2 separate regions of the Homo sapiens genome follow, and region 1 is linked to region 2. Evidence: fine-mapped expression QTL. Tissue or cell type: whole blood. Region 2 holds a variant in brackets; the other region holds the start of a gene. All regions are shown on one strand. Distances are from middle to middle.

Evidence for each region. PIP is the estimated chance that this variant, and not a neighbour inherited with it, causes the effect.
Region 1: it holds the start of CHST13, and the variant in region 2 is fine-mapped to the expression of CHST13 in whole blood (TOPMed, PIP above 0.99).

What each region holds. Positions count from the first base shown.
Region 1 is chr3:126,522,845-126,525,597 of GRCh38, forward strand. CHST13 (carbohydrate sulfotransferase 13) reads left to right here and starts at 1,311. Exons shown (of 3, transcript NM_152889.3): 1 at 1,311-1,585. The coding sequence starts at 1,489. RefSeq lists enhancers at 635-1,135, 1,136-1,636, 1,697-2,197, 2,198-2,698.
Region 2 is chr3:126,551,826-126,554,578 of GRCh38, forward strand. C3orf22 (chromosome 3 open reading frame 22) reads right to left here. Exons shown (of 4, transcript NM_152533.3): 2 at 1,477-1,605; 3 at 172-297. The coding sequence starts at 1,565. Among named protein-coding and RNA genes, the nearest start is that of C3orf22, 5.7 kb to the right of the region's middle. The variant C/T (reference allele first, on the strand shown) is at 1,157.

The DNA of each region.
Region 1 (2,753 bases), 29 kb before region 2:
GAAACCAGCCACTTGCCAGAAACAGGCAGTAACCATAAACAAATTAATTACTAATATCAAATACTTACCTGGCACTCACTGAGTGCCAGACACTGTTGCAAACATTTCCTGTATCTCATTTAATCTTCACAGCACTGAGGTTTAGGATTATCCCCCCGTACAGGAAAATGGGAAACAGAGAGGTGCAGTTAATTTCCTAATCTCCCACAGCAGTAAGCGGCACCAGGTGGGTTTGGAGTCACCACATTTTTCAAGAACAGTTTAACAACTGGAGCTTCGAGTGTGGAATAATAGACACTGGAGACTTGGAAGGGTAGGAGAGTGAGCGAGGTGGGAGGGATGAGGAATTACTTAATGGGTACAATGGACATTATTTAGGTGATGGTTACACGGAAAGCCCAGACCTCACCACTGCATATCTCCATGTAACAAACCTGCACTTGTGTCCCTTACATTTATACAAAAAACTCCAAAAAAAACCTACAGTGTAATGTAGTACCCTATCCCATGCACTCACACTGCTAAATGTTGTTTCCAACGCACTCATCCGCGCACCCAGTGCCAGCTGCACCCTCCCGTTCCCTGCTAGCCTGACTTCTGGGCAGCAAGACCCTGCGGTTAGACGTGGGCTCCTGCCCACAGGGCTAGCTGGATGTGTGTGTCTTTCAAAGGCTGGACTTTACTCTCACCTCGCCCCCTCCACCCCCCAACACACACACACACACACACACACACACACACACACACAGTCCCTGGCAAGTCCTCAGAGCTCACGTGGTGCCCAGAGAAGTTGTGGGTGACACGATGAGGCACAAGCTCCATTCCCCGGGGGATGTAAGCTGAGACCCTACCTCTCTGTGCAAAGGCTAGTGCCACCTGCATGAGCTAGATTCAGGCAGGACCTGGAGACCCTGGAGGAAAGCAAGGCTGCAGGGTAGCCTTGGGTCGGGGAGGGAGGGACACTCTTAGGCCTCTTACTGAGGGCGGGGGTCCCGGAGAGCCATGGACAGGGCAACGCTCTACTAGGCTCCTTGGTTCATCCCAGATCAGCCCTTGGGCCCCTGGCATCTAAGGCAGCAAAAAGGCAAGGGGACACCGCCCGGGGTGGGGCACGCCACCGCGACAATGCCTCTTGGCCTTGGGTGGATAATGGCACCCCTGGGCAAACCCTAGGGGCGGGGCCCAGAGGCGAGGGGCTTCCCCAATCAGTCTCCGCCCTAGCGCCCTGGACTTCGGCCCCATTCCATTGGGTGAGGGTGGGGGCACGAAAAGAGGAGCGGGCTTGCGGCCCCACCGTGTCCCGCCTCCTCAGTCCCCAGCGACTCGCAGGGGCTGGTGGGGCTGGGGTCCAGCTGCCGTGCTCCCCTGCCCTGCGCCGCGCCGCGCGTCTTGGTAGGCGCTGCGCTGCCGGGGCCGGGTCCTGGGCCAGTGCAACTCCGCCCCCAGCCGTATCCAGCGGACTGTCCTCCGCCGCGCGCCCGGCACAGCATGGGGAGGCGCTGCTGCCGGCGGCGCGTGCTGGCGGCCGCCTGTCTGGGCGCCGCGCTCCTGCTCCTATGCGCCGCGCCCCGCTCCCTGCGCCCGGGTGAGTGCCCGCCGGCCGAGCCGCGCACCCCCAACCAAACCTGGCTCCTCGCGCTTTCCACCGCGGCCTGACCCCTCGACAGCGCGGGGGACACCTGTTGTCTCCTTCCTGGCTGGGGCTAGGGGTGGCGGGCAGGGGCGCTGGTGAGGCACAGAAAGGCTCTAGACGCCCCCGCGAGCAAAGGCTCTTGCTCCTCCTCCGGAGTTACCTCCCCACTCCCAGAGCGGTGACTGTTTTGAGTCCCACAGCCGGTGCCTGGAGACCGGGGTCAGTTGTGGGGGGTAGAGGACAATTGGCCAATCCGGGAAGGCCATCTCCCTTACCTTCACCCCCTTCCCCTGCGCACCCCACGGCCCCTGGACATGAGCGCTGCTGGGCGCATGCGCATAGGAGGGGAAGCTTGGGCCACTCGGTCCGGTCCCTTGGTTGTCCTACTGTGCAGTGGGTGCCACTCCCTGCTCCACCCTGAAATCCACACTGGGTAGGGCTTGGGACTCCTGTGCACCCACTCGTGGTCTGGCTGGGGAAACTGAGGCAGTTAGTCATGACTCCGCAGAGCTGAGTGCCCTGGGCTCCACCGGTGCTGAGTCTTTGCTCTGAGTCTCTCCTCAGCTCATGTGAAGCCTCCCATCAACCCATTTCACACAATCTGAAGCGGGCCAGAGAGTGGGGAGACAGGTGTGGTGGCAACGTGCTGGCTATACAATCTACTTGGGACTGGAGGGGCCCAGCCAGCGCCCGGGTCTCCTGACCTCAGGGCTGTTTGCCTTTCCTTGTATGTGGTATGCGTGCTGGGTGGGACGACTCAGTCCGCCTCCCCACCCCCAGTGTGGGCTCTGAGAATCCTGGGCCCCACCCTTGGAACCTGGCAGACACAGTCCCAGGGAGTAAGTAACTAGGTCCAGGGTGGGCGGGGATGTTGGGCAGTGGGGGTGGGAGTGGCCCAAGACTTGAGGATATCAGGGCCTGGGGAGGCCTCTGCCCACTCCCCCTGACCCTCACACTGCCCCTTGCCCCTTGTGTGTCCAGACACAGCAGGTCAGACCTGGATGCCTCCCCAAGCCCATGGGATAGGGCTGGGGTGTCTCTTTCCAGCACCCCCACAACCCCTTCTGTGAGCTGTCTGGTGGTGTTGAGCAGACAATCTCCTGGCAGTCTGGGGTGTGGA
Region 2 (2,753 bases):
GGGAACAATTATCAGGCTTTAGCATCCCCCTTCTCTGCCTCAGTTTCCTCAGCTTTAAAGTGGCGCGTGCTGGGAGGATAACATGAACGTCTGCATGCAAAACTGGGGGACAGAAAGCCAGGCAGCATGCACACAGCCAGTGGGGGTGGTGGCATCAGGGCAGGGACTTACCCTCGGACTGGGATGGACCTCGTTGGCACCAACCTCTTCTGCAGGGGCAGCTGCACCGTGTTCGAGTCGTTTGTGACCTCCCAGGGCTGCAGGGGCTCAGGGTCGGGCTCTGTCAGCCACGACAACCTGCAACAGCACTTGGAATGTCAACATGGCCACCATCCACCAGCCTCCTGAAGTAACTCTCACTCATCTGGAACTTTCCATCTGCTAGGCACTGTTCTAAGTGCTTCACAAATATTAGCCCATATGTCAGCTGACAAGCATGCTGTGAGGCAGGTGTTACCCACACTTTACAGACAAGGAAACTGAGGCACAGAGGTTCCACAGCCAGGAGGTGGGAACTAAGCTGCAGCCTGCTCCAGAGCCTTGTCATGGCCACAGCAGCCAAACGGTGCAGAGCACTTGAGCCCCTGGGTGCTGGCCTCCCCTGGTTTCAACCTGAGGCCACTCTGTGTGGTGTGTACCTGCCACCTGGGCCTCATGTGATGGTGTCTGCGGTGGGGGACAGAATGGGGTGCAAGGTTATGGCTACAGTTTCCTGGGGCAAGGACAAGAACAGGTGCTCAGCTGGCCCGGCACAGGGACACAGCATGGAGCTCATCGTCCCCACCTCCCTCGAGCGTGGCTGCCCTGGTGGTCCCCCGTGGTCCCTGTGGGTAGCCCTGCCAAGCATCCAGGGCCACTGCTGGGCGCACAACACTTGCTTCTGGGGTGGGGGGTGAGCATGGAGTGGGAAGCTTGAGGTTGCACGGTGCCAAGCTGAGCCCCAGTGCCAGGTGCTGCCTGCTGTCCTGCGGGTGGGAGGCCAGCTGCCCTGCGCCCCAGGCATTGCTGGCAAGATTTCCCTTGCATTTGTTTTGCCTCTTTGGCCCGTGGCTCTGTCCTTATGTGAAGTGCCCTGTGGAGACTTGGCCCAGGCCCCCTCGGGCTGCCCGTTATCCTGGCTAGTTGCGAGTCCCAGGAGCTCACAAACAATGGGTGC[C/T]CAGCACACCAATTCCAACACAGCTCAGGAGGGGCAGTCGTCTGTGGCCATGCTCCTCGCGTGACTTGGGGAAGCAGCTGGCCTGGGCTCTGGGATGACCCAGGGAGGCCTGAGCCCACCCAGAGGCCCCTCGGCTTAGGCTGTGATGGGGGTAACGAAGGCGGACCCCAGACTGTCAGCTGGGCAAGGGCTGCTAAGGGTCTCCCTGTGGACAAAACCCCCTCCCAGCTGCAGCCCCACAGAATGCATTTGAGTTCCCAGGATGCTGGGGTGACCTGGGGGAGGCAGGGCTTGTCTCCAGAGGTGTCAGCCTCCCGCACCTGTACGGAAACTTCTTGGCAAAATTCTCCTGGGCCTGGATCCTCCACTTCTTACTCTGGTGAGACTTCTTGCAGGCACTGGAGTCCATCACTGAGTGGGTTAAGCTGAGGCACACCTCTCAGCCATGGCTGGAAGACAAGAGGAGGCGTCAGAGGGGGCAGGGGTGGTGGGGGGCAGAAGGCAGAGTGATGAGTACCCAGCAGGGCTGGGGGTGCCTGCGGGCCGCCAAATGACCTGCATCACTGCCCTGTGCATGCACCGCTGTGTTCAATTTTCTCCTGCGTGTAGCTTCCTGTGACCACCGTAATCAAGGTCCTCACCAGACGCTCTCCCCAAGGCTCTCTCACGCTTACCCCTCCACAGCCACGCCTGTCCACAGCCCGGTTCCCCAACCCTGGCAGCCACTGATCTGTCCTCATCATGGGGCAGCCATGTGATTTCAGGAGCGCTATGCGGAGGAACTGCACACGAGGTGTGTTTCTGAGACTGGCTCCTTCTCATCCATTTCTTCCAGATCAGCCCAAACTTCACCCACAGTCTGTCCCTCCTGCTGCTGAGCACTGTTCTAGGGTGCGGTTGTGCAGCTTCTCAGGCCTCCAGCTTGGGGCACTTACAAAGCCACTGTTAATATTCAGATGTAAGTTTTTGCATGAAAATAAGTCTTCATTTCTCTGAGATATATTGCTGGGTCATATGGTAAGTCCATTTCTAGTTTTCTGTTTGTTTGTTTTGAGACAAGGTCTTGATCTGCCGCCCAGGCTGGAGTGCCGTGGTTGATCACGGCTCACTGCTGCCTCAACCTCCTGGGTTCAAGTGATCCTGCCACCTCAGCCTCCCGAGTAGCTGGGAGCACAGGCATGTGCTACCATGCCCCACTAATTATATATTTTTGTAGAAATGGGGTCTAACTATATTGCCCAGGCTGTACATACATTTTTTGTTTGTTTTGTTTTTCTGTTGTTTTTTTTTTTTTTTTTTTGAGACGAAGTCTCGCTCTCGTCCCCAGGCTGGAGTGCAATGGCATGATCTTGGCTCACTGCAACCTCTGCCTCCCAGATTCAAGCAATTCTCCTGCCTCAGCCTCCCAAGTAGCTGGGATTACAGGCGCCTGCCACCACGCCTGGCTAATTTTTGTATTTTTAGTAGAGACGGGGTTTCACCATGTTGGCCAGGCTGGTCTCAAACTCCTGACCTCAGGTGATCCATCCGCCTCGGCCTCCCAAAGTGTTGGGATTACAGGCGTGAGCCACCGCGCCTGGCCCGGCTGTACATACAT